Linked DNA regions of Homo sapiens. The protein of the gene in region 1 interacts with the protein of each later gene in a biochemical or structural test. Each region holds a gene or a part of one and is shown in the gene's direction. Other genes may lie near its edges. The genes, in order: NID1, FGA, PTPRF and FBLN1.

What was found.
Region 2: the proteins of NID1 (region 1) and FGA form a complex in vitro, tested with the Homo sapiens proteins (one study listed by BioGRID).
Region 3: the proteins of NID1 (region 1) and PTPRF form a complex in vitro, tested with the Homo sapiens proteins (one study listed by BioGRID).
Region 4: the proteins of NID1 (region 1) and FBLN1 form a complex in vitro, tested with the Homo sapiens proteins (3 studies listed by BioGRID).

Annotation. Positions count from the first base shown.
Region 1 is NC_000001.11:236,041,063-236,048,106, reverse strand, and holds part of NID1 (nidogen-1 precursor), read left to right. Parts: intron 1-2,423; coding exon 2,424-2,650; intron 2,651-5,814; coding exon 5,815-6,197; intron 6,198-7,044. UniProt on the Homo sapiens protein: Sulfated glycoprotein widely distributed in basement membranes and tightly associated with laminin. Also binds to collagen IV and perlecan. It probably has a role in cell-extracellular matrix interactions.
Region 2 is NC_000004.12:154,584,770-154,587,781, reverse strand, and holds the end of FGA (fibrinogen alpha chain isoform alpha precursor), read left to right. Parts: intron 1-124; coding exon 125-270; intron 271-863; coding exon 864-2,288; 3' UTR 2,289-2,507; downstream 2,508-3,012. UniProt on the Homo sapiens protein: Cleaved by the protease thrombin to yield monomers which, together with fibrinogen beta (FGB) and fibrinogen gamma (FGG), polymerize to form an insoluble fibrin matrix. Fibrin has a major function in hemostasis as one of the primary components of blood clots.
Region 3 is NC_000001.11:43,603,881-43,610,924, forward strand, and holds part of PTPRF (receptor-type tyrosine-protein phosphatase F isoform 1 precursor), read left to right. Parts: coding exon 1-309; intron 310-1,022; coding exon 1,023-1,120; intron 1,121-1,309; coding exon 1,310-1,563; intron 1,564-1,648; coding exon 1,649-1,742; intron 1,743-2,359; coding exon 2,360-2,578; intron 2,579-2,933; coding exon 2,934-3,088; intron 3,089-4,443; coding exon of another isoform or gene 4,444-4,455; intron 4,456-5,502; coding exon 5,503-5,618; intron 5,619-7,044. UniProt on the Homo sapiens protein: Possible cell adhesion receptor. It possesses an intrinsic protein tyrosine phosphatase activity (PTPase) and dephosphorylates EPHA2 regulating its activity.
Region 4 is NC_000022.11:45,596,865-45,601,661, forward strand, and holds the end of FBLN1 (fibulin-1 isoform D precursor), read left to right. Parts: intron 1-3,442; coding exon 3,443-3,582; 3' UTR 3,583-4,271; downstream 4,272-4,797. UniProt on the Homo sapiens protein: Incorporated into fibronectin-containing matrix fibers. May play a role in cell adhesion and migration along protein fibers within the extracellular matrix (ECM).

The DNA of each region.
Region 1 (7,044 bases):
CCTTCTCAGCCTCCCAAAGTGCTGGGATTACAGGCGTGAGCCACCATGCCCGGCCTTTTTTTTTTTTTTTTTTTTTTTTTTGAGATGGAGTCTTGCTCTGTTGCCCAGGCTGGAGTACAGTGGCACAATCTCAGCTCTCTGCAGCCTCCACCTCCCAGGTTCAAGCAATTATTGTGCCTCAGCCTCCCGAGTAGCTGGGATTACAGGCATGGGCCACCACACTGGCTAATTTTTGTATTTTTAGTAGAGATGGGGTTTCACCACATTGGCCAGGCTGGTCTCCAACTGCTGACCTCAAATGATCCACCCACCTCAGCCTCCCAAAGTGCTGGGATTACAGGTGTGTGCCACCGAGCCCGGCTGGAAGGATAGTTTCTGACTAGAGAAATTATTAATATGAAACGATAGGTTAAAATAACAAAGTACTCCTGAGGGATGCAAAGATAGAAAGGTAAAGCCCAGACTCTAGTTGGGGAGACAAGAATCATTTGGACCATGTGAGTGGTTCAAAACCCAAGTATTGTCATAACCCAGGGTTGGCCTCTCCGTGGGCGCAGTCATCAGGGACGGCTGGAAGGACCAGGCTGTAGAGCACGGACTTGCCCTTGAAGGAAGCAGGGTCTTTGAGTAGGTCAGGAACTCGTTGTTAGACCTGAAGTGACTTTTTAGGACAGGCCTCGATTTTCCCTTGGAAAAATAATTTCTCTCTACCATAACTTCACCTTTATAGGAAAATGAGGAAGAAAGAAACTTGAAGGGTCCCAAAGCACTTCATATAAATGGGAGGTATTTCAGGCTGGTGGTTCCTAAAGTGTGTACCACAAAACACCAGTCCTACAAGATACACCTTGAGGAAAAGGCCTTCTAGTTTGGGAAATGCTAAAACTATATCTCCCTCTTGGTGATTCACCCTGTTCACTCTGAAAAGTCCTGCAGTCAGGAAACTTGCAACTTGCCTAATACTACTTTTTTTGTTTTTGTTTTTGTTTTTGTTTTGAGACAGAGTCTTGCTCTGTCACCCAGGCTGGAGTGCAGTGGTGCCATCTTGGCTCATTGCAATCTCCACCTCCTGGGTTCAAGTGATTCTCCTGCCTCAGCCTCCCAGGTAGCTGGGACTAAGGGCGTGAGCCACCATTCCAGCCTTGCCGAATATTGTTTAACTGAGCAGTCTCCAAACCTGTGACCATACCTCTTCCCTTCCCCCGCTCCAAAAAAGATGCATTACATCCCACAGAGCACACTTTGGGAAAGTCTGTTAGGGGCCTGCATGACACATTTTGCTTGCCAACTGTTATCTGTCTGAGTGCCAAACTTGAAAACAGCTTAAATGTTAAGTGTCTCAGCTGCCTCCCTTTCACTTGGGTGATAAATGCCTAACCCATTGGTATGGATCCCTTGCTTGCCTCTTGGGCCTAATCTGTTCCACCTCCGCATACCCTTTGCAGCCGCTATACCAAATTACATGTAATTCCCTGACCTTGCCCTTGCTCTTTTTTTTTTATCCGCAGTATCTTGCACAGGCTGTCCTCTCTGTTTGGGACGTCCTCTCCCTGACCCCCCTACAGGTGGCAGCTTCCTCCTGCTTGTTCATTCAGACTGGGCCCTCCCGTGAGGCCTTGACCAACCACAGCCTCCTGGCATGGGATGCACTCCCACCGCTCCTGGCATGGGACGCTTCCTCTTACGGCTCCTGCAGCGCTTTGCAAATGTTTCGATTACAGAATCCAACCTCAGGTTTTGCAATGTTTTCTTCACATGTCAGCCTTCCCAAAGTGCTGGGATTACAGGCATGAGCCACCGCGCCCGGCATGTGCCTGCTCTTTCATACGTGACCTCATGTAGTCTTCCTCATTTCTGTGAAGGAGGTGGTTTTATCTCCATTTTACAGATGCAAACATCGAGGCTTAGGGAACTCAAGTATCACGCCCAAGTCACATAATAATGAGTAGAGCAAAGATTTGGATCCAGGTCTGTTTTCTCCCAAATCTCATGTTTTGTTTTGTTTTTTCTACTGTACGGTGCTTGGGTTCAATAAATGTTTGTTAAACGATGAATGCGGTTGAATATGTTAACAGCCATGGAAACAAAGTCTTTGGGTAAGAATTTCCTAAACTGCGTGAGATTTTAGGCCACCATCTGGAGGTACCATCTGTATAATTTTTGGTTAACCTTAGGGCCACAGTTATGCAGAAGATATTTATGAATTAATCAGAAAATGTCATGTTGACATAGCCTTAGGGATATTTCAGTGGAACTATCCCAGAATCCTAGGTTCTTGCTACAAAAGTCCTTCTTTTAGAATAAGGTGAGAATATTGCCATCGCTCTATAGCACTGTACGCTTTATAGATAGTCTGGCGAATAACACATTTTAAAATCTATCGATATTTTTCCGAGTAACTGAATTTTAACTCATCTTCACAGAGAAACACGTTCCAGGCTGTTCTAGCCTCCTCTGATTCCAGCTCCTATGCCATTTTCCTTTATCCTGAGGATGGTCTGCAGTTCCATACGACATTCTCAAAGAAGGAAAACAACCAAGTTCCTGCCGTGGTTGCATTCAGTCAAGGTTCAGTGGGATTCTTATGGAAGAGCAACGGAGCTTATAACATATTTGCTAATGACAGGGAATCAGTTGAAAATTTGGCCAAGTATGCTTTCTTTGTTCTTCAGTAGATTCTCCTCTTAATATTTTTTAATGTGGATAATGTAATGTGTATTATAGATCATTACCTAAAAATGTTCCTATGGATTTAAGTTTTGCATATAGTTTTTATATTATGAGATACTCTTTTTCTGATGAACTTAAGGAAATGTATTTTTAGAATGAACAGATATCCTATTTTTTAGATATCATCCTCATTTAAAATAGTTCTTTTTTTTTTTTTTTTTTTTTTTTTTGAGACAGAGCCTTACTCTGTTGCCCAAGCTGGAAGGCTGGAGTGCAATGGCACAATCTCGACTCACTGCAACCTCTGCCTCCCAGGTTCAAGTGATTCTCTCGCCTCAGCTTCCCAAGTAGCTGGGATTACAGGTGTGTGCCACCATGCCCAGCTAATTCTTGTATTTTTAGTAGAGACGGGGTTTCACCATGTTGGCCAGGCTGGTCTTGAACTCCTGCCCTCGGGTGATCTGCCCACCTCAGCCTCCCAAAGTGCTGGGATTACAGGCATGAAGTGCCGCGCCCGGCCTTAAGACAGTTTTTACCATTTTGTCTATAAACACTGTTAGAAATAAGGGTTATTCAAACCTATCTCCTTTGATCTCAAGGCTGAGAAAACCTTTTCCTTCACATTGACTAGGGGGAATATTCTTACAACAGAAATGGTGCTCTCAGGTTATGTTGTAGAATTTGACAAAAGAGGGAAAAGCCCAAATTGGATTTTGAAGATTAAAACCTTTCCTCTCCCATTATTCTTTAAAAACCAAGAGTGAATCCCCTAAAACCACCTTTTAATTTTATATCTTCAAATCTAGCTTGAATTCCTCTGCCCTTCACTTAGTGATGTGCTGGTAAATGCTTAACAACTGGTTTTATGAGGGCAGAGGAACCTGATTTATAGCGTTTGCCTGTTTCTGTGATGTAAATACTCCTACGATGGCCAAGTTCAAGTTATTAACGTCATGTCACTCATTGAAGAGTTCAGAAAACATGCACCATTATATATATTCTCACCATAAAGATAAAATAGGTTTAATATATATAATTTCAAGAGCATGGACAGTAGCAAAAGGATTAGAATATGATGAGTTTTGAATATTTTTTCCTTTTAAAAAATATAACTTGTTTAATTGGAAGTTCATGTAATTTAATTGTTTAGAATGGCTGTGTTTAATAACTGGCTTGCAAAATTCCTAAAACTTTAACAGCCAGCTCTCACAAGCTAGTCCATATAAGCTCCCACACACCACTGTCTTTACTTGAATCCCAGGCAGACAAATTGATTAGACATCCTATTTATGCAGGACTTTTGTGATTTATCATCCCCACCCCACCCCATTGTTTTGCTCAGTATTTTCCACTGAGTAATGTATGTCCCCTCTGTCCACCGTATAATATAATTATTTCATGTAATTTCTGATAGGAGCACTTCCAATCACAGACACAGAAGAATGGTAAAAATGGTGGAGGAAGAAGTAGAGATTAGGGATATTCTACTATATTTTATAGTTATAAAATGCTTTTGGATTTTGTATCTCATTTGCTTTTCACCATATCCTTTAAGCACCAAAGGTAAACTGAGACTAGTCCAAGATCTCACAGCCAATGGAGTTGGGATTTCTTTTTTTGTTGTTTTTGTTGTTGTTTTGAGATGGAGTCTTGCTCTGTCGCCCAGGCTGGAGTGCAGTGGCACGATCTTGGCTCACTGCAAGCTCTGCCTCCCGGGTTCACGCCATTCTCCTGCTTCAGCGTCCCGAGCAGCTGGGACTACAGGCGCCCACCACCACGCCCAGCTAATTTTTTGTATTTTTAGTAGAGACGGGGTTTCACCATGTTAGCCAGGATGGTCTCGATCTCCTGACCTCATGATCTGCCCTCCTCAGCCCCCCAAAGTGCTGGGATTACAGGTGTGAGCCACCGCGCCCGGCCCTGGAGTTGGGATTTCTAAAAAACCACGTCTGCAATGTTTTCACTCACACTTCTGACACCAAATGGGTGGGGTTTTTTTTCCCACACCAACCAATTCTCTGCACACCAGCCGGGTGTCCTACACTTCAGTTCAATTCTAGCACTGGCGTTACTGCAGACCCCACAGGTTAAGGGCTCAGTCCCACAGGACTGCCCCCACTTCAGATGCCAGTCCCAAGTCCTGTGTTTCCACCTGTACTTCTGACCAACCAGCTATAAATGGAGGGTTTCCATGGCATGCTCCTCAGATTTGATAATTTGCTAGAATGGCTCACATAACACAGAAAAATGCTTCACTATTACCAGTTCATTCTAAAGGATACAACTCTGGAACAACCAAATGGAAGAGAGGCATAGGACAAGGTATGGGTAAGGGGGCAGGGTTTCTATGCCGTCTCTGAGTACACCAGCCTTCCCGCACCTTGATGTGTTCAACCCAGAAGCTCTCTGAACCCCATCATTTTAGGGTTTTTATGGTGGTGTTATTTCATAGGCACAGTTGATTAAATCACTGATCCTTGGTGATTGACTCAATCTCCAGCCCATCTCCCCTCCCTGGAGGCAGTGGGGAAAGCTGGACATTCCAACCTTCTAATCATGCCTTGGTCTTTCTGGCCACCAGCCCCCATCCTGAAACTGTCTAGGAGCTCCCAGCCATCAGTCAACTCATTAGCCTACAAAAGACACTCTTATCACTTCAGAAATTCCAAAGGCTGTAGGAGCTCTTGTTTCAGAATGTGAGGACAGAGACCAAACATGTATTTTCAATTGTATCATACCATGTCATGGAAAGAGATAGTGGAGAGCATGAATGACTTCAGTCCTAAAGCCACTGTCAGTCCTATGAGCCACCTTAGCTCATAAGGTAGAGCATGTAACCAGCAATTAGGATGAGCAAGTTGAATTTTAAGTCCTGATAGTGTCCCTGGAGCACACTTCTGGAATGGCTGGGACTGAGCTTGTGCTAGTATTGTGCCCATTTGGACACAGTCTCACCAGACAGCCCTAGACTGCCTCAGCCACATGACGCCCAGACATGACGGCCAGTGCCCTTCCACTCTCCAGTCCTAGCTGCAGGTGATGGCTTGCAGACCAACACAGATCCTCAGGGCTCCCTCTGCTTGGGTAGTGGTGGCTGTTGGTGGGTTGCTGGCCTGTTTCTAAGAAGCCTGTCCTTCCTCCTAGGAGTAGTAACTCTGGGCAGCAGGGTGTCTGGGTGTTTGAGATTGGGAGTCCAGCCACCACCAATGGCGTGGTGCCTGCAGACGTGATCCTCGGAACTGAAGATGGGGCAGAGTATGATGATGAGGATGAAGATTATGACCTGGCGACCACTCGTCTGGGCCTGGAGGATGTGGGCACCACGCCCTTCTCCTACAAGGCTCTGAGAAGGGGAGGTGCTGACACATACAGTGTGCCCAGCGTCCTCTCCCCGCGCCGGGCAGCTACCGAAAGGCCCCTTGGACCTCCCACAGAGAGAACCAGGTCTTTCCAGTTGGCAGTGGAGACTTTTCACCAGCAGCACCCTCAGGTCATAGATGTGGATGAAGTTGAGGAAACAGGAGTTGGTAAGACCATTTAAGTTGCAGTTGGTAACGATCTTGGATGTGTGGGCTTCCAGACAGGCGTACTGCTGGGGAGATGTCAGTTGTGAGCATTACATGGTGGTTTGTAAAGATAAGAGCTTGGGAAAGTAGAGGCTGAACTCTCACAGCCGTGGAGCCTTGGTGTTATATGCCCAGTGGCTTCAGAGATGCTCAGTGATCTTTTGGGATTAGGACCATGGTTTTGGAGACTGTTGAGTGTGTCTTCTTTCAAGTTTCCTAGTATTCCGTTCTGTCTGTTTTAAAGAGAAAACGTCCGTTAGAATTGTTTTGAAAGTCAGATTTTCTTGTGATTTCTCAGATCAGAAATGTATTCATCCACCTGAAAAAACATTTTAGAAGTTCTTTTGGCTGTCTATGAAGCTTATCTTTGACATTTATTTCCTCTTGGTTTTGGAATTAGAATTGTTGATTATTTTTCTTCCCAGGTCCCGTCAGTTTCAGAGTTGGTTTGTGAAGATTAAAAAATATATATATATCAAAGTAGATACTCTTTAAAAAAAAATAGGGTCGGGGGTGGTGGCTCACACCTGTAATCCCAGCACTTTGGGAGGCCGAGGCAGGTGGATCACAAGCTCAAGAGATTGAGACCATCCTGGCCAACATGGTGAAACCCCATCTCTACTAAAAATACAAAAATTAGCTGGGCGTGGTGACACACGCCTGTAGTCCTAGCTACTTGGGAGGCTGAGGCAGGAGGATTGCTTGAACCTGGGAGGCAGAGGTTGCAGTGAGCCGAGATCATGCCACTGCACTCCAGCCTGGCAACAGAGTGAGTCTCTGCCTCGAAAAGAAAAAAAAAGTTTTACAG
Region 2 (3,012 bases), on another chromosome or scaffold:
TTCTTTCTTTCTTTCTTTCTTTCTTTCTTTCTTTCTCCTTCCTTCCTTTCTTCCTTTCTTTTTTGCTGGCAATTACAGACAAATCACTCAGCAGCTACTTCAATAACCATATTTTCGATTTCAGACCGTGATAATACCTACAACCGAGTGTCAGAGGATCTGAGAAGCAGAATTGAAGTCCTGAAGCGCAAAGTCATAGAAAAAGTACAGCATATCCAGCTTCTGCAGAAAAATGTTAGAGCTCAGTTGGTTGATATGAAACGACTGGAGGTAAGTATGTGGCTGTGGTCCCAGATGTCCTTGTTTCTGAGTAGAGGGAAAAGGAAGGCGATAGTTATGCACTGAGTGTCTACTATATGCAGAGAAAAGTGTTATATCCATCATCTACCTAAAAGTAGGTATTATTTTCCTCACTCCACAGTTGAAGAAAAAAAATTCAGAGATATTAAGTAAATTTTCCAACGGTACATAGATAGTAAATTTCAAAAGCAAATGTTCAGTCCCTGTCTAATTCCAAAGCCCATTACATCACCACACCTCTGAGCCCTCAGCCTGAGTTTCACCAAGGATCATTTAATTAGCGTTTCCTTTGAGAGGGAATAGCACCTTACTCTTGATCCATTCTGAGGCTAAGATGAATTAAACAGCATCCATTGCTTATCCTGGCTAGCCCTGCAATACCCAACATCTCTTCCACTGAGGGTGCTCGATAGGCAGAAAACAGAGAATATTAAGTGGTAGGTCTCCGAGTCAAAAAAAATGAAACCAGTTTCCAGAAGGAAAATTAACTACCAGGAACTCAATAGACGTAGTTTATGTATTTGTATCTACATTTTCTCTTTATTTTTCTCCCCTCTCTCTAGGTGGACATTGATATTAAGATCCGATCTTGTCGAGGGTCATGCAGTAGGGCTTTAGCTCGTGAAGTAGATCTGAAGGACTATGAAGATCAGCAGAAGCAACTTGAACAGGTCATTGCCAAAGACTTACTTCCCTCTAGAGATAGGCAACACTTACCACTGATAAAAATGAAACCAGTTCCAGACTTGGTTCCCGGAAATTTTAAGAGCCAGCTTCAGAAGGTACCCCCAGAGTGGAAGGCATTAACAGACATGCCGCAGATGAGAATGGAGTTAGAGAGACCTGGTGGAAATGAGATTACTCGAGGAGGCTCCACCTCTTATGGAACCGGATCAGAGACGGAAAGCCCCAGGAACCCTAGCAGTGCTGGAAGCTGGAACTCTGGGAGCTCTGGACCTGGAAGTACTGGAAACCGAAACCCTGGGAGCTCTGGGACTGGAGGGACTGCAACCTGGAAACCTGGGAGCTCTGGACCTGGAAGTACTGGAAGCTGGAACTCTGGGAGCTCTGGAACTGGAAGTACTGGAAACCAAAACCCTGGGAGCCCTAGACCTGGTAGTACCGGAACCTGGAATCCTGGCAGCTCTGAACGCGGAAGTGCTGGGCACTGGACCTCTGAGAGCTCTGTATCTGGTAGTACTGGACAATGGCACTCTGAATCTGGAAGTTTTAGGCCAGATAGCCCAGGCTCTGGGAACGCGAGGCCTAACAACCCAGACTGGGGCACATTTGAAGAGGTGTCAGGAAATGTAAGTCCAGGGACAAGGAGAGAGTACCACACAGAAAAACTGGTCACTTCTAAAGGAGATAAAGAGCTCAGGACTGGTAAAGAGAAGGTCACCTCTGGTAGCACAACCACCACGCGTCGTTCATGCTCTAAAACCGTTACTAAGACTGTTATTGGTCCTGATGGTCACAAAGAAGTTACCAAAGAAGTGGTGACCTCCGAAGATGGTTCTGACTGTCCCGAGGCAATGGATTTAGGCACATTGTCTGGCATAGGTACTCTGGATGGGTTCCGCCATAGGCACCCTGATGAAGCTGCCTTCTTCGACACTGCCTCAACTGGAAAAACATTCCCAGGTTTCTTCTCACCTATGTTAGGAGAGTTTGTCAGTGAGACTGAGTCTAGGGGCTCAGAATCTGGCATCTTCACAAATACAAAGGAATCCAGTTCTCATCACCCTGGGATAGCTGAATTCCCTTCCCGTGGTAAATCTTCAAGTTACAGCAAACAATTTACTAGTAGCACGAGTTACAACAGAGGAGACTCCACATTTGAAAGCAAGAGCTATAAAATGGCAGATGAGGCCGGAAGTGAAGCCGATCATGAAGGAACACATAGCACCAAGAGAGGCCATGCTAAATCTCGCCCTGTCAGAGGTATCCACACTTCTCCTTTGGGGAAGCCTTCCCTGTCCCCCTAGACTAAGTTAAATATTTCTGCACAGTGTTCCCATGGCCCCTTGCATTTCCTTCTTAACTCTCTGTTACACGTCATTGAAACTACACTTTTTTGGTCTGTTTTTGTGCTAGACTGTAAGTTCCTTGGGGGCAGGGCCTTTGTCTGTCTCATCTCTGTATTCCCAAATGCCTAACAGTACAGAGCCATGACTCAATAAATACATGTTAAATGGATGAATGAATTCCTCTGAAACTCTATTTGAGCTTATTTAGTCAAATTCTTTCACTATTCAAAGTGTGTGCTATTAGAATTGTCACCCAACTGATTAATCACATTTTTAGTATGTGTCTCAGTTGACATTTAGGTCAGGCTAAATACAAGTTGTGTTAGTATTAAGTGATGCTTAGCTACCTGTACTGGTTACTTGCTATTAGTTTGTGCAAGTAAAATTCCAAATACATTTGAGGAAAATCCCCTTTGCAATTTGTAGGTATAAATAACCGCTTATTTGCATAAGTTCTATCCCACTGTAAGTGCATCCTTTCCCTATGGAGGGAAGGAAAGGAGGAAGAAAGAAAGGAAGGGAAAGAAACAGTATTTGCCTTATTTAATCTGAGCCGTGCCTATCTTTGTAAAGTTAAATGAGAATAACTTCTTCCAACCAGCTTAATTTTTTTTTTAGACTGTGATGATGTCCTCCAAACACATCCTTCAGGTACCCAAAGTGGCATTTTCAATATCAAGCT
Region 3 (7,044 bases), about 190 Mb from region 1:
CCCCCGAGGACCTGCCCAGCGGCTTCCCCCAAAACCTGCATGTGACAGGACTGACCACGTCTACCACAGAACTGGCCTGGGACCCGCCAGTGCTGGCGGAGAGGAACGGGCGCATCATCAGCTACACCGTGGTGTTCCGAGACATCAACAGCCAACAGGAGCTGCAGAACATCACGACAGACACCCGCTTTACCCTTACTGGCCTCAAGCCAGACACCACTTACGACATCAAGGTCCGCGCATGGACCAGCAAAGGCTCTGGCCCACTCAGCCCCAGCATCCAGTCCCGGACCATGCCGGTGGAGCAAGGTGTGTGCTGTGGACATGGCATCCCTTCCCGAGTGTGGCTGCATCTGGGGGTCTCTGCTCTCCTTGAGCCACTGACCTCTGGCGACTGTGATCCACCAGCCTCTGGTGTGTGACCTCCAATCTCTCATGACTGTGACCACTAACCTCTAGTGAATGGGCACCACATTCTTGATGCCTGACCTCTGCTGTCCTTAACCTACTGACCTCTGCTGTATGACCTTCTGATCTCTTGTGACCTTGACCCACTGATCTCTTTTGACTGTGTCACTATTCTTGGGTGTGCAACCTCCTGATCTTTGGTGTGTGACACTAATCTCTTGGGGCCATGACCCACCGACCTCTAGTGAACATGCTCCACCACGCTCTGGTGTGTGGCCACATGCTTCTCATGACCGAAACCCACTGACCCTCTGATCACTCTGGCCTGGTGTCCATCGGCTCAAGCTTTTACACTCGCGTTTCTGGAGATTCTGACCCTGGTTGCTGTGGCATCCCCCGCCCTGTTTGGTGCTCACTGTGGAAGAGCTTGGGCTGGGAGTTCAACTGTGCCGTTTGAAGCTGGCTGGGAGTGGGGCGCTTGGTACTCTGCAGCCATCCTTCAACCCCCTGTTCCCCAACCAGTGTCTCATCCTGGCCATTCACCTTCCACCCTTCCAGCCCATTCACCCCACCTCATATACCCAGCAGAGCTGACTCTCTCTATGCCTTTGCAGTGTTTGCCAAGAACTTCCGGGTGGCGGCTGCAATGAAGACGTCTGTGCTGCTCAGCTGGGAGGTTCCCGACTCCTATAAGTCAGCTGTGCCCTTTAAGGTGAGTAAGGGCCACGGCCAGCTGAGCCTGGCACACACACAGGCCTGCTGGGTGCTGTCTTTCCAGTCCTAACCCATGTGCATCCGGCTGTGGAGCAGGAATGTGGTTGTGTATCCGTGCACTGTGCCTTGCAGCCCGTGGTAGGGAACCTCACCCAAAGGCATTGATTGCCCCTCCCGTCCCCCACAGATTCTGTACAATGGGCAGAGTGTGGAGGTGGACGGGCACTCGATGCGGAAGCTGATCGCAGACCTGCAGCCCAACACAGAGTACTCGTTTGTGCTGATGAACCGTGGCAGCAGCGCAGGGGGCCTGCAGCACCTGGTGTCCATCCGCACAGCCCCCGACCTCCTGCCTCACAAGCCGCTGCCTGCCTCTGCCTACATAGAGGACGGCCGCTTCGATCTCTCCATGCCCCATGTGCAAGACCCCTCGCTTGTCAGGTGTGCACACGAGGTATCGGGGGAGGCGGGGCAGGGCTGGAGGTAACCAGCAGTGACAGTCCTGATTCCTGCCCTGCCCACCCAGGTGGTTCTACATTGTTGTGGTGCCCATTGACCGTGTGGGCGGGAGCATGCTGACGCCAAGGTGGAGCACACCCGAGGAACTGGAGCTGGACGAGGTACCTGGGGAGGGGATGGGGACACTGACAGCCCCATTGCAGTGGTCAGCTGTGGCCTTCCTGCCCTGAGCACTGTCCCAGTGACTCTCAGATTCACTCCCCAAATTGAAATCTCTCTTCTGGCTGGCAGCCCGCCCCTCTCTGGAGAGAGGGACTCTGAGGAAACCATCTGGGAGTATTCACAGAACTCCCGGAGGGCTTACGAAGAATCCCTGGGGTGGGATGTCGTGGAGATGCCTCTGCAGGTCTAGAGAATGCCAAGCCCTGTAGACACTGCAGAGCCTCGCAGATCTAGAAGCTATGGAGGGCTTAGTGAGCCTTATAGCCAGGAGTCCCTGAATGTTTGAAATCCTTCAGTCCTTTCTCATAGCCAGTGTGGCAACAGCCTGGTTAGGGTGGGGCAGCTTACACACAGGGCTGCTTCTCATGGGCTGGTGGGGAGGAGTGGCTTCACGGTGTCTGTTACTCTGTAGGGGCAGTGGGTTGGGCAGGTGTGGGCTCTGACACGGAAGGTGAGCCTTGATCTCGGCCCAGGGAGCTGACATCCCAGGCCACAGCCTCAGGGCTGGCCGGCATGCTCCAAGGCCCCTCATGACCCCCATGCTCTGCTCTGCCAGCTTCTAGAAGCCATCGAGCAAGGCGGAGAGGAGCAGCGGCGGCGGCGGCGGCAGGCAGAACGTCTGAAGCCATATGTGGCTGCTCAACTGGATGTGCTCCCGGAGACCTTTACCTTGGGGGACAAGAAGAACTACCGGGGCTTCTACAACCGGCCCCTGTCTCCGGACTTGAGCTACCAGTGCTTTGTGCTTGCCTCCTTGAAGGAACCCATGGACCAGGTCTGCCTGAGCCGGCTTGGCTGTCAGCACCCTGATTCCCTGGGCCTGGCCTGAGACGATGCCAGTCTCAAACACCACAAGACCCCAGGTCTTTATCAGTTTGGGGGCTTCGAGATCCTGGGGCAGCACTAAAGACCCAAGATCTGTCCCGGGGATCCTAAGACGCGGCCCTGGGACCCAGAGGCCAGACCTAATGTGGCTCCAGGGACCCAGTCCTGCCAGGTCCACCTTGTAGGGTCTGGGAGACCAGGCCCAGGGTAACCCAGACCCAGAGCCCTTTCTCCAGGATTAATAGGCAGAGGGTGGGGGGTTCTCACGCTGAGCTCACAGCCTGCTGTTCTCCACCGGGCCACAGAAGCGCTATGCCTCCAGCCCCTACTCGGATGAGATCGTGGTCCAGGTGACACCAGCCCAGCAGCAGGAGGAGCCGGAGATGCTGTGGGTGACGGGTCCCGTGCTGGCAGTCATCCTCATCATCCTCATTGTCATCGCCATCCTCTTGTTCAAAAGGTGAGCACTGCCCTCAGAGCTCCGGGAACGGCCACCTGCCCCTCGCCTTTCAGGCCCTCTCCGGGTGTGGTGCCTGTGGAGAGCGTGCAGCCTTGCATCCTGGACCCTGAGCCTCAGGCTCAGCAGGAAGGCAGGAAGGGCAGGAGCAGTGTGTGTGCCTACCTGTGTCTGCAGGCCTGCATCTGTCAGGTGAGGGAGCCTCTGCAGCAGCCTGGGCGTGAGGAACTAAAGCCTCAGAGGGTTGTCTCATGTGCATCCCTGGCACGTCTGTCTGTCTCTGTGTTTCTGTGGATAAGAGTGCGTCTGTCTCCTCTTCAGTTTTAAGACACCGCCATCTCCTGAGCTCCTACCTCGAGTCCTTTCCTTCTGCCACCATTCCTGGATGATTCCCCAGCCCTACTCTCCTGCTTAGGCCTAGAGAGGTCGAGCTGGAGGCCCACAGGCCATGGATGCTCACTAACAGACATGACTGATGGCCTGCTGTGCCCGTGCCATCCGCAGCGGCCTCAGCCTCAGTGTGTCTTTCCCACTCAGTTCTCTATCGGCAGTGGCCACCACCTGCCCTAGGAGTCTCCCTTCCTATCCGTGCACCTTCCAGCCTGAAAGGGATTTCCAAAGATTTAACTTTGTCACTCTCAGTTTAAAACCTTTTGATGGCTGCCCACGTAAAGCCCACCCTCTTTAGCCTGACAGCCAAACACCTGGCTAATCTGACCCCTGCCACACTCCTGACATTGCGACACTGAACTCATTCAGTGTTCAGGCCCACACAGGGTGTGCCCTCTGCGGATCTCCCTCCCCCTGCCCACTTGGCAACAGCAATCTCATCGTTCAGGACTCAAGTCCATGCTCTGGTGCCTGCAAGGCCTTGCCTGGCCCCTACCCCTTCCTTGCACAGCTGTCCCCTGTGATGCTCCACTGCAAACGCAGCTGGGCCTGTGTGCCAAGCCTTCAGCCCCCAGCACTGGGCTGAGCCCACAGGCATGTCAGTGAGCACCTGGCAGATGAAGATATGCTAGTCTGTGTGTCTGAGCACATCTCTGCACCATGCAGGAGAGCCTGTATCCTGTGTGCCTACCCTGGACCCACTGTTCCTTCCTAAAGAGTCCACTCCTTCCTCCCAGGGTGGATGGACCTGTGGGCGGGTCCCTAAGGAGTGTCCCACAGATGCACTCATCCTTCCCACTTCCACCTGCATTCTGGGTCTGTCCAGAGAGGTAGACCCCCTCCCTGTGAATGTCATGTGGGTGCCATATAAGGGGCCTGCAGGGTCCCCATGTCATTAGAGGGCTGAGTGCTTGGTGGAAACTGTGACCGTTCCTTTCTTCTGTCCTTGCTTGTCTTTCGGGACCTAGTAAACAAGAAAGGTAGGAGTTGTTCCTTCTCTCTTCACACACCTCCCCCTCTACTTCTAATCCTTGGGCCAGCAGGGAGGGATGACGCTTTGACCAGAAGTCCCCTGGCCTATGGCTTTAAGCAGCAAACTGTCCAGTCAGCTCAGCAGGCTCCCTGGTTCAGGACTGAGTCCTCATTGGTGTGAGGAGGCAGTTTCTGTCTCACTCTTGCCAGTTCAACTCTGCAGAGGATGCTTCTTCTCTGGGGCACATACATAATACAGACTGCATTGCTTTCCCTGAGCGTACAGAGCTCACCAGAACCATCACCCGGCTCCCAGTTCTCTGAGAAGTTGCCTAAGTGCTGCGAGAGACAGTCTCGCACAGAGCAAAGAGCAGTCACTGTGTGGAACAGCAGAGAGGCATGTCCTTGTACCCACCTGAGCACACTCACTCAAATTCTTCTTTCCGAAGCACATGCGTCTGCAGACCACAAGTAGCCTCTGGCTATTTGTTGGCAGCTGAATCCTATGGTCTGTCTCTGACCCTGTCCTTGTAGATGGGAAAACTGAGGCCAGTGAGAGAGGACTCTGCCCAGCTAGGGTGACGCCTTTCCCGTCCCTCCCCTGCTGCCCTGGGCATTTACCCTGATACTCTGAGGGCCAAAAAGCTGGGGCCCTGTCTCCTGTGCTGTTTGTGTATTTTATGTGTCATTTGCATGTTTGTTCCCGGTGGTTCCTGCTACTCAGCTGGGTGGCCTTGGAGATAGCAGTCACTGTCCTGCAGTGACCTGCCTTCTATCCAAAGGAGCTGCTCGCCCCTGCAACCCCTTCCTCCCTGCTGCACTGCCCCTCTGCTCACGCCACACTCCTGCTCTCCCTACCCCCTCCCTGCCCTGTGTTCTCTCATGTCAAGGCTGTTCTGGCCCTGGCTCCTCCGCGCTCAGAGATCCTGGGAAGAGGTGGGGCAGTAGGAGGACAGAGCCGTGGACATGGGGGCTCCTTGGCAGCCAGCCATGCCATGTGTCACTGTCTCAGCCTGGACCTCAGGTTCTCACCAGCCTCCCTTCTGTCTCTCTAGGAAAAGGACCCACTCTCCGTCCTCTAAGGATGAGCAGTCGATCGGACTGAAGGACTCCTTGCTGGCCCACTCCTCTGACCCTGTGGAGATGCGGAGGCTCAACTACCAGACCCCAGGTAGGGCACTCCTATGGCCTGTGTGCCCCCAGCCCAGACCTAGCAGGCCTGTGGGTCTGTTCTGCAGGTCTCAGGGTCGCCACTGAAGTTCCTGGGCCGCATGCACTTGTTCCTGCTCCTTTTCTTCCTTTCTGCCCTTCTCCCTGTGCTCATCCACTTTGGTTGGAATGACTGGGGAGCCCCCATATCCTGCAGCTGGACAGGTGCCCCAGGCCAGGACCCTCTTAGGTGGCAAAGCCACTTAGCCACTGCCTTGTCTTCAGTCAAGGCCTCTGAATATGGGCTGAGGACCTCCCAGAGCCCACGTCTCTGCCACAGGGTGGCCAGTGTCTGGCGCACGCTCTGACGCCTCCACATGAAAGAGGGGCATGTTAGCAGTGGGAGATGCCTCACCAGACATCTGTGGGGAGATGAAGTGCCTGCACCTGAGCCTTCCTGGAGGCCGACCCCAGGTTTACCATACCACGTACCTGCCCCTTCTCCTAGCCACTCTCATGGGGCTGTCCACCTCTTCCTTCTACCTGAAATGTTACTCCTCCCAACACCCAGCAGACACAGCTCAGACCTCTCCTCTTGCCCACACCCCCACAGGGTTAGGTGTCTCTTCTTGGCTCCAGGAACCTCCCTCCTTCTTCCTTTTGACGCCTCTCACAGTGAGCTGGGATTACCTCAGTGACAGTCTCTGAGCTCTGTGGTGCCAGGAACTGTGTCTTGTCATCCCCCATCCCTTGTATTCAGCGCACGATGGGTTCTTGTTGAATGCCTGTGAAATGAACACACAGACAAATGAAGGAATGAGTGAACTAATGCATACACACAGGGTTTGTGTATGTATGAGCTGGTTATTCTGCATGTCAAATTACCCCAAAACTTAGTGGCTTAAAACAACAATAATTATGTATTATCTGTCACAGTTTTTGTGAGGCAGGAATTCAGACAGGGGCACAGCAGGAACAGCTTGTCTTTATTCCAGAAAGTCTGGGCCCTCAGCCGGAAGACTTGAAGGCTGGGAGCTAGAGTCATTTAAAGCAGGGGTTGGCAGACTATGGCCCGTGGCCAAGTACAGCCCACCACCTGTTTTTGTAAATAAATTTTTACTGGCTGGGCGTGGTGGCTCATGCCTGTGATCCCAGCACTTTGGGAGGCTGAGCCGGGTGGATCACCTGAGGTCAGGAGTTCGAGACCAGCTAATGAAATCCCATCTCTACTAAAAGTACAAAAATTAGCCAGGTGTGTGGCCCCTGTCATCCCAGCTACTCAGGAGGCTGAGGCAGGAGAATCACTTGAACCCAGGAGGTAGAGGTTGCGTGAGCCAAGATCGTACCATCGCATTCCAGCCTGGGTGACAAGAGCAAAACCCCATCTCAAAAATAAACAAATAAATAAAATTCTACTGGAACAGACACACCCATTTATTTATATGCTA
Region 4 (4,797 bases), on another chromosome or scaffold:
TTTAAACTATTTAAAATACAGTTATATAAATTTGACATACTTTATAACATATATTTTTAATATATTGTTTTATATGTATAATAGTTATATATCATATATGAAACTATATAATATACAGAAATATAATAATAACAGAAATAGATCTCTTTTTTTTTGGGACAGGATCTTGCTCTGTCACCCAGGCTAGAATGCAGTGGCACAATCTTGGCTCATTGCAACCTTGACCTTCCCGGGCTCAAACAATTCTGCCACCTCAGCCTCCTGAGTAGCTGGGACTATAAGCACACACCACCATGCCTGGCTAATTTTTGTATTTTTTGTAGAGACAGGGTTTTGCCACGTTGCCCACGCTGGTCTCGAACTCATGGGCTTGTGATCTGCCCGCCTAAGCCTCCCAAAGTGCTGGGATTACAAGCGTGAGCCACTGCACCCAGCTGAAACAAAGACATATCTGACTGTTGCTTGTGGAGGTGCCTGCCATTCCTCCCTACAGTGATTCACAGGCTCACCCAGCCTCTCCTTCTCCTTCAAGCCCCAAACCTCTGAATGCCAGGAAGGGTGGTAAGAAGTGTCTCTGCGCCTAGTACCAGTAAAGTTGGCAGGTCACTGTGGCTAGCGGGGGCACCATTGTTGGCCTCGGGCCTGGGGAGAGAAAAATATGACATACAGGGGGCCCACGGGGGTACGTTAGGTTCAGCCCTGTAAGCCCACACTGACCCTGGTGGGCAGACCCAGCCCAGGGAGGGGCAGGCAGGAGTGACCCCGTCATCAGGTTCTGCTGGCGAGCCCAGGGTGGTGACAGGCGCACGTCTTTTGCCGGGAGCTGAAGACGTTCATGGGCTTTCAAGCAGGACAAAGCTTCAATGTCATCACCAGGTAGCAGGCAGAGCAAGGGTGCTGACAGCCTGCAGAAGCCTGTGCTTATCTCTCCATCGGAGCTAAAGCCCATGTTTGCTTAGGGAACAGCCTGAAATTCCACCCCAGCTGCTGGGCCTTTCACTTTTGAAACATAAGCCCAGAGAGCGAAAGGGGGGAACGTTGTGCCCAGATTCTCTTTCTGAGCGTGAACTTGATGTTCCTGACCAGGAACCAGCCACTCGTACCGAAGGCCTTCCTGACCCCTCAGTTCTCCCCTGAGCCTTTGCTGTGTCCTGGGCACCAAGAGGTGGAGATAGGCTGTCACCGTGCACGTTTCCTAAGCCTGCAGAGGAACTGTTCACAGAATCCAGCCTGGAATCAGCCGTTTGTGGCAAACAGTCAGTAGCTATTTCTCAACTTGTGGTTGTGAAGCTGCAGGCTCCATATTCGCTCTTCACAGAGCATCCAAGCAGGTGTCTCAGTGCCAGCTCACACCGTTCACACTGCTCACACCAGCTCTGGAGAGCTGCTTGTACACATCTCTCCACAAGTCCACTTTCAGTGTTGCCACGTGGTACCGGAAATTTGCCATAGAAATTGGCCGATGGTACGACCAGAGAGCCACCTGTTAGATAGTTACCCCACATCCCCACCCTCAACACCACCTTAGACAAATCCTACTGTCAGAACATGTGGAACGGAGAAGGGACCTTGGCGGTTCATTCATAAATGTCAGCACCCATAGGTCTGTGCCTGTTTGGCCGCAGACACTGGGGAGCAGCCTGTAGCCTTGGCTTGTGCAGCTTCCTCTGCAGGAGGGGTGCCTCTTCCAAGAAACCTGTCCTGACTCCCCAGCCCTCCCCACCTCCATTCTCGCCCCCGCTGGACAATGCACACCCTCCATCAGAGCGTGGTGCATACCTTTCATCCTAGATCTCCCACCAGCTTTGAAACCAGCATCCTGTTCATGATGTCTGGAACCCTGGGAACTGTCCCAGCACCTGTTTAGCACATGTGTGCATGCGAAGGGGATCTGCTGAGTGCTCTGCTCTGGTGGGAAGGCCGCTCTGCACAGCTGGAGCTGATGCCTTGGCAGATGCTGGGCATCTGAATCGTGCAGTGCAGGAGCACAGGGGCATGGCACCGTTTGTTGCTGGGGAACCTAGGCCTCAAAAGGGCCTCAGCCTCTCCGCAGTGCAGTGAGGACTGTCCCATACTCTCACTGCGTACAGAGTATGGGAGAGTCTCTGTGAGGCTTTGGGTGCCCTGCAGAGGGAAGGCAGTGCCAGCTGGGCCTGGTCGGGGGCCATGGAGATGGCGGGCCCAGGCTGGGGAGGACTTGTGGCACCCACTCCCTTACCCGCTAACCCGGATCCCCTGGAATCTGCAGAATGCCTGGGGTTGCTCCTCTTCTACCCTGCCGTGGCTGAGCTTTGTCTGTGCCCTGTCCTCTGGCCACGGTCTTTGCCTGATCCCTACCCTGGTACAGGCAGAGCTCCCTGCAACCCCCAGCTGTTTCCCCAGAACTGACACCAGTCTCCCTGCACCACCCATCCTCCTTTTGACTGCCCTGGGGACGCCACTGCTGCTCTGATCCTCTGTCACTCCAGCCACCTCTTGCTTCCCTGTTATCACAAACACTGAACAGTGAGCTCAGGTGTCAGCCTCCACAGAGGCATGCACAGCAAGGGGTCCGGAGGCATGCCCCATGGAGAACTGGGGGTGCTCTGCTTGCAGGAGGATCCAGGGCCCATTGCAGTCCTCAGATGTTCTGGGGGAGAGGATACGCCTGCTTCATTTCTTCTCAGGGGTCAGAACTGGGCACAGGGGGTTGGAAGGAGGGAGAAAGATGTCTATCAGGTACCCACTGCATGCCAGGCCCTCTTCTAGGCTCCCTTAAAACCTTTCAGGTAGGCCAGTCACGGTCGCTCATGCCTGTAATCCCAGCACTTTGGGAGGCCAAAGCGGGTGGATCACCTGAGGTCAGGAGTTTGAGACTAGCCTGATCAACATGGAGAAACCCCGTCTCTACTAAAAATATAAAATGAGCCAGGCATGGTGGCACATGCCTGTAATCCCAGCTACTCGGGAGGCTGAGGCAGGAGAATGGCTTGAACCCGGGAGGTGGACGTTGCAATGAGCCGAGATCACGCCATTGCACTCCAGCCTGGGCAACAAGAGTGAAACTCCGTCGCAAAAACAAAAGACAAACAAAAAACACCTGTCAGGTAAATGGTGGTAGAGCAGAAAACCTGGGCTCAGAAGCTGGCATTGATCCCAGAGCCATCCAGTTTCAAAGCCCACACCCACAACTTTCCTCCAGGTTGGGCAGTGCATGATGGAAAGGCTGTCCCAGCAAGTAGTGAGTTCACTTTCACCAGTCCCTGGAGGCAGGAGCAGAGCCTGAGCTGACCACTTGGAAGGAGATGTTATTCAGGGGACTCGAGCATCTGGCGTAGGATGGGACTCCATGAGGTCTATGCCTCCTTCTAGCTCTGAAACTCCTCAAGGGAAACCATTTCCCAGATCTCTACGTTGCTGCAGTCCCTTCTAACTTCCAGCACACCTTCTGCTCTCTCCGCAGGTGTCGTGCGCCAGGTGCGGCCCATCGTGGGCCCATTTCATGCCGTCCTGAAGCTGGAGATGAACTATGTGGTCGGGGGCGTGGTCTCCCACCGAAATGTTGTCAACGTCCACATCTTCGTCTCTGAGTACTGGTTCTGAGGGCTGGTCTGCCGCACAGCCGCAGGTGCACCTCCAGGCCAAATCATTGCTGCCAGTGACTGTGGTCTGTACTTGTTTATACCCTCAGACTTTTTTAATGTTAGGTATTTGTAGCATTAGGCCAACATGTATTAAGCTGAGCCAGATGAATAAGTCCATCTGATGTATTTTCGGTGTTTAAAAAATGAGCCCAGTTGCTCAACTGTTTGGTTGAAAACCTTGCTCATTTTTTAATGCGAAGGCTAAGTGTCACCCCCTTTCTCTGCCTCTGGCTGGGCCTTGCTAAGGGCCAAGGAAAGAAAGACATTTTTTAGGGGGCAGCCAGTCCAAATGCCAAAAGAAGACCAGTTCTTGCCCTGATTGTATGAAATTTGACATTTTGGCACTTTTTTTTTTTTTTTGGCCAATCAGATTTTCTATGTTCTAAGGACATGGCTGCTGTAGAATAGCACAGACGTGGATGATAAATTATCCCCAGAAGCAGCATGACAGAATGCCTCGGGGAGCACTTGGAAGGGAAATTGCAGTTCTGTTGAAATAGAGGAAAATCCCTTGGTAAAGACACAGCCTGTTAGGCTCGTGTGGGCCTCCAGTATGTTCACCAGGGGAATGGCTGGGATTTCTCGGCACTCTGCATCATCCATCTTTTCTTATAGGTGGGAAAATAAACAACTTTGTGATCCTCCTGATGGCCTGTGCATGAGAGTCTTTCAAGAAGAGGGCTCTCTGCCAGCTCAGGAGTCTTCCGCCAGCTAAGGGACTGGAAATCTCCCCCCGCCGTCCCCCTGCCTCACCCCACCCAAGGTTGTCTCAGTGCTCCTCCTGCCCCTCAAGGTTCTGGGGCGGGGCCCAGCTTGTGTATTGGAAAAGCTTCCTACACACGTCGTTTTCAATGCCATGCCCACCCTCTGAGAAGTGTGGCTCGGGTTTGTTCCCTGCCCCATGTCCAGTGCTGCTAGGAAAGCCCAGGGCTCTGGCTTCTGTGTGACTTGCTTCCAATAGCATCCCTCGTGGCATCCTGATCCTCTCTAGAAATCCCTGGGGGCAAATAATGACCCTTCCGCAGCCATGAGTCCCTGCCAGACACAGGCCTGGGCCAGGCATTTGACATGAGGTGCTTCGCTCATTCCTCCTGGTGGCCCAGTGTGGTGGGTATGATCACACACAATCTTGAGATGGACAAACTGGGCTCAGAGAGAGGAACTTGGCTGCCAA